Regions from separate parts of the Homo sapiens genome. Here region 1 is linked to region 2. Evidence: fine-mapped expression QTL. A gene starts in region 2. The other region holds a variant in brackets. All regions are shown on one strand. Distances are between the middles of the regions. Region 1 overlaps CHURC1-FNTB (CHURC1-FNTB readthrough). Region 2 holds the start of RAB15 (RAB15, member RAS oncogene family).

The links. PIP is the estimated chance that this variant, and not a neighbour inherited with it, causes the effect.
Region 1: its variant is the best candidate, but not a certain one, in a credible set for the expression of RAB15 in whole blood (TOPMed, PIP 0.61).

The regions. Positions count from the first base shown.
Region 1 is chr14:64,935,527-64,938,429 of GRCh38, reverse strand. All of the region lies in intron 3 of CHURC1-FNTB (CHURC1-FNTB readthrough), which reads right to left. Among named protein-coding and RNA genes, the nearest start is that of GPX2, 5.8 kb to the left of the region's middle. The variant A/G (reference allele first, on the strand shown) is at 1,244.
Region 2 is chr14:64,970,733-64,973,635 of GRCh38, reverse strand. RAB15 (RAB15, member RAS oncogene family) reads left to right here and starts at 1,300. Exons shown (of 7, transcript NM_001308154.2): 1 at 1,300-1,683. The coding sequence starts at 1,560. All of the region lies in intron 3 of CHURC1-FNTB (CHURC1-FNTB readthrough), which reads right to left. RefSeq lists a silencer at 1,138-1,507.

The DNA.
Region 1 (2,903 bases), 35 kb after region 2:
TGAGGTGAGAGACTCATTTGAACCCGGGAGGTGGAGGCTGCAGTGAGCCAAGATGGCGGCGCCACTACACTCCAGCCTGGGCGACAGAGTGAGACTCCGTCTCAAAATAAATAAATAAAGTTCACATTACACCCTCATTCTTCTCAAAATCACATATTCACAAATTCAGGCTCCAGACAAATAGAGGCAGGAATGACTGGACTCATTTCTTCCTCTGTAAGAAGGAAGGGGTTGGGGATGGGAGAGAGCCTCCCTTCAGAGTCAGGCTGTTTATAATCTGCCATTTGCAACATCATTATTCCTCACTGTGAGGACAGTTTTGCTCAGAGGCCTTGCAAGGATGGTGTCCCCAATTCCTCATCCAGTGCAGACATAATCAAAACATATCACCACCGCCAAGGTCAGGTTCTATCATGTTCTGGAAAAGATACCTGCTGAGAGGCCACTGCCTGTCACCTTGCCCCACAGACCTCATCCTGGAAACTTCTCATTTCATCTTCCCTTCTTTGACCACTAGATGGAATATTTTCACTTCTATTCACTGAAACCCTGAAGGGACAGTTTTCCAAACTGGACACACTGCTTGAGAAGCCCAATGCTGAAGGGAAAATGTTTTTCCTTTAATTGTTCTGCTTACCCTAACCATTTTCTAAGCACTTGCATCATATGAGAGTGAATGTGGAATAGATGTTTAGGATCCCCACTTTCTGACCTTCAACTAAACCTGTCAACAACAGTGCTTTATTTCAAAAGGGTAACCTGAGTATTACAGTGGGAATCCCCTGACACCTTTCTGCAGGGCCTTCTGCTAACTTAAGGCTACCCTTACCTTCACTCTTGAAACCTCAAGCCTTTCAGATTCCTGCTCTTAAAGTCAACAGCTGGGGTATGAATTATTATGGGGCAGGACCATGTACTGATTTTAGAGCAGTAACTGCAGACAAATTGCTTTCCTGACAAAATAGAGAATTCTTCTTGGATGCTAGTCATCACCTTGACAGTACCATAGCCTGTTGTTACATCCAGTAACAGAGCCAGCTATCTCGGGTGTTGGAAACATGCCACAGGCAACTTAGAGCCTGAGACACCAGTACAATGTGTTCAGTCTTTCCCTTGAGGCCCAAGTTCAAAGAATTATTTAGGGATTCCCAAAGGAATGGGAATTACAGTATAAGTTATTCTGCAGAAAGTCAAGAGAAGGCCATAAAGCTAGAATGAAGGCTCTTCACTTGGGAGGGGAAAC[A/G]CTATTTGCTTCAGACAGAACCTGATCTATTCAGCTCAGGAGGAAACAGGGAAGGCAAGACTGGAAGATTCTATTTTAAAAGGATGTTTAGGTTTACCAAATATTTAGTTGTGCTGTTGTTAAAATGAAGAGAAATTAGAAAGTGTTTCCTTTCCTTTATTCTTCATCTTGTTTGTCCCCCTTATCATCCTCAGAAGTATTAGCTTGTGATCATAAACAGACAAGGCAAAGCTTTAAAATATCACCCACTTTTCTAGATAAACAAAAATCTTTTAATCAGATTTCCCTAGGGGCACCCAGAAGGAGGGGGAAGTCTCCTTAACAACTCTCCCAGAAGTGCTGAGATAATGCTATTCAACTCAGAGGAGGGACAGAGAGAATCACTAACCTGAGGGCTCTTACAAAAACAAAAAACAAAACAAAAAAACCAGAGCTTGGAACAAGTGATTTTAGGAGGCCAGGGTAAAGACACTGAAATCGATAATTATCTTCATGACTATGTTCCCATAGCTATCTCTCCTTAGTTTATGAGACACTGAGGCCCAGTATGGTGGCTCAAGCCTATAATCCCAACACTTTGGGAAGTTGAGGCGGGAAGATGGCCTGAGCCCAGGAGCTCACTATGTAGCCTGGGCTACACAGTGAGACCTCGTCTCTACAAAAAATTAAAAAAAAAAAAAAAAAATCGGCTGAGCATGGTGATGTACACCTGTAATGGTTTCAGCTACTCAGGCAGCTAGGGTGGGAGAATTGCTTGCGCCTGGGAGTTCGAGGCTGCAGTGAGCTATGATTGCACCACTGCACTCCAGCCTGGATGAGACCTTGTCTCAAAAACACTGAGTCAAACTCTAGAACTTTATTATAATCACCATCACAACCATCATCCAAACTACCATTCATTTAATATTTACTATGGGCACAGACTGGGCTAGGTACTTTATATACACTAGGTTATTTAACCCTCATAGAGATCCCATGAAAAATTGTTATTTCTATTAAAAGAAAAGGTAATTGGGCAAGACACTTGCCAAGGACACACAGCTTAGGAAGCAGCAAAGCTGAAAGTTAAAGCCAGGTCAGTCTGACTCCAAAGCCTCTACTCTTAACCATAACACAACAGTGCTTTCTTCTAGCTCAGATTTTTCTTCATAAAGACCACTGACAGCTGCCTGCACACAGCATTAGATTTAAAAATCATTAGATTTAAAAATTCTGTGGAGGCATGATGGTTTCTAGTTTTCCACTGAAGACACTGAGGTACAGACAGGATAAGTGACTTGCTCAGTGTCCCATCATTAGCAGGTGACAAAGCTAATTCTAGACCCAGATCTTTTAATTCCTTTTCTATCCAACTATACTGTATCTTACAACAGTCTTGTACTACAGTAAAAAAAAAACATACATTTTTAAATTGAGCGCCTCAAATAACTAGCCCTGCTCACAACATGAAAGAATGAAACCGAAAGGACTTTTGATACACTGAAATAAAGGACAGTGAACATAAACCTCTTCATGGTAACTTACAAATAACAAGCCATATCTGGTTGTGCCCAAGCTATCTGATGTCAATTAAATTAGTACTGGGAGAACCTAAAACCATGTGAGAAAGAGCTAGATCAAACAAAACAACAAATAGTGGCTGAGCTTTTAACTTCAGGAG
Region 2 (2,903 bases):
CAAATGAAGTAAATGGGCTTACCACTTTCCTTGACCTACTATTGAAAAATACATTCTCCATCCAATATTCAGCCTGAAAACAGGTATGTACATATATACTTTTCATTGCTTTTTTTTTTTTTTTTTTGAGACAAGGTCTCCCTCTGTTGCGCAGGCTGGAGTGCAGTGTCATGATCTCGGCTCACTGCAGCCTTCCCCTAATGGGTTCAAGCAATCCTCCCACCTCAGCCTCTCAAGCCTGGGATTACAGGCGAGCCACCGTGCCCAGCTAATTTTTTTTTATTTTTAGTAGAGACTGGGTTTCACTACATTGGCCAGGCTGGTCTCCAGCTCCTGACCTCAAAGTGATCTGCCCGCCTCAGCCTCCCAAAGTACTGGGATTACAGGCATGAGCCAACGCGCCTAGCCTTTCATTGCTTTTTAAAGACCTAATAGGCTAGACTTTGCTCTCCCTCAATACTCGTTGGTAGGGATAGGCAATTTTCTCAACTCCGGAGAGCATTCATTTGCCTCTCTCCGGTGCTAACACATTCAGTGGTAGGAAACTGGATCTTGAACAAGGGCCATTCATTCTTTGGTGCCACTGGCTATACCACAGAGAAATTTAGGGGTCTGAAACAATACATTGGTCACCTGGGCACCTATCCTAAGCACCTTAGAGGGAAAACGGAGACTTGCCCGCACACCTCTAAAGGATTTTGCACTTGGAGATGTTCTTATGGCCATCTATCTTTTCACCCTGGTGGAGGCCGTGAATAGGCATTTTCCCCATTTAAAGAAAAAATGGGGACGGGGGAGGGCCGTGACACAGTCACACAGGTAAGGGGCAGCCAGATGGCAGGGAGGGGGAATTCCACCCACACTCTCGGGGACTCATGGAGACGGGTGTTCGAATCCAGATCCTGCTCAAGGCCTTCCTACCTCGGGTGAGCCCAGCTGAGGTACCAGCCACTGGGGAGCCCGGCCAGATCCTGCAGATGCAGGGTGCCACGGCGGGCGGAATTACCGGCGCCAGACTTGGGGTGGGATATGGGGAGAAGTGGTGAGCCCGGAAAGCGGAGCACGGTAGAAGTGGGCTGGGTGGGGGCTCACCTCAACTCCCCCATTCGGAGCGTCCGCGGAAAAACGAAAACGTTCCCCCGCCCCGGGCAGGAAGGGGTTGGGAGGGGGGGCTGGCGCCCCGCCCCAGCGTCGCCTGCTCGATGGGGTCCCGCTCTCCTGCGCGCGCTCCCCGCCCCCTCTCTCCGGGGCGGCGGCGGCGGCGCAGGGGAAGGGGCGGGCAGGGGCCGCCGCCGGTTTCTCCTCCCACCGCCTCGCGCCAGCCCAGCCGAGCCGAGCCGAGCCGAGCGGGCGCCGCGCCGGGCTCCCGCCGCAGCCGCGCTTCCCGGCACCCAGCGAGCGAGTGGGCAGGCGGGCGGGCGAGGCAGCCGCGGGGGCCGGGCCCGGCGTCCTCCTCGCCGCCCGCAGCGTCCCCGGGCGGGCGCGGGCCGCGATGGCAGCGGCGGAGCAGGGCTGAGCCCGCTGCCCGCCCGCAGTTCCCGGCCCCGCTGGCCCCAGTCATGGCGAAGCAGTACGATGTGCTGTTCCGGCTGCTGCTGATCGGGGACTCCGGGGTGGGCAAGACCTGCCTGCTGTGCCGCTTCACCGACAACGAGTTCCACTCCTCGCACATCTCCACCATCGGTAAGGGGCGGTGGCCCGGGGCGCCCCTCCCTCCCCGCCCGCGGCCCCTTTCCCCGCCGCCCCCGTCCCCAGCTGGGGAGGAATTGCCAGCCCCTCCGGCTGGAGGCGGTGGCGCCGGAGGCCGGAGTCCGGGATAAATCTCGGGGTGAGCATAGGTTTTGGCAGGTGAGGGTGTCCCTGCTGCCTGCCGTCCGGACCAGGGGTGGGGTCTCCCGCCTCTTGCCGGGAAGCCTTCCGTCCCATCAAACCGAGAAACCGGGGGTGAGGGGAGCTGGTGTAGGCCTGGGTACCCCGAGCTGGGGTAGCAAGAATCGTAGCCGCTGGAATAACATCCCCACACCCCCAGGGGGAGGGGAAGTAAAGCTTCTGCTACGGAAAAGGGGGTCAGGGTGGAGACCGGAGTCACTGAGGCGCCCTTGGTTCTGTGGTGACCCAAGGTGGAGCCGGCGGGGGGCGAGGGGGGGAAGAGAGGACGTACGGAGGGGCCACAGGGATCGAGTTTCCAGGGCAGAGTTGGGAAGGTAAGCCGCAAGGTGGGACACCTGGGGGAGGACACAGATAGGGTGAGGAGCCCCTGCGCCTGGGAAGAGGAGACATCTGTTCTGAGGGAGGCTAAAGAGGATGGAGGAGTGTCAGGAATACCTGCCCAGACCAAGGGGTCAGAAGGCAGGCAGGACCCGCCTGAGGGCATCTCTCATCTGGCAGTGCTGGAGCCTGTGGTTAGAGGGACAAGACCCGGTGGCATCCCAGACAGCACTATGATGGGGTCACTTATTCTAGGAATGGGTCCATGGCCTCCCCTCTGAGACAGTCAGTCTCCCGCTTCTAGGCTGTGAGGGGCCCCCTCCCTGAGAAGTCTGAGTAGAGGGAATTTCATCCTCAGCTGCTACCCGGGTCAGCCCTGGAGTAGCCTCTGCATTGCCCAGGCCCCTGGAAACACCTGCTGGCTGGCTGGTCATCCATTTGGAATGCTCTCCTAGAAGTCCCTGCTGCCATCAGGGATGGGCACCAGCTCTCAGCTTCCTCTTGAGGATTCATGTCCACACCATCCCCCCTCCCCCCAACACACATTCCTTGCTGAGAGAGAAGTAGGAGCAGATAGATACAGCCAGGAGGAACAGAACCTTCTGGTTAAGAAGCCAGCTTTATTGTCCAAGAGACCTGAGACCTCACTGTGGGGCAAAGCAACCTTGAATATTGCCTAAACTTCTGAGCTTTAT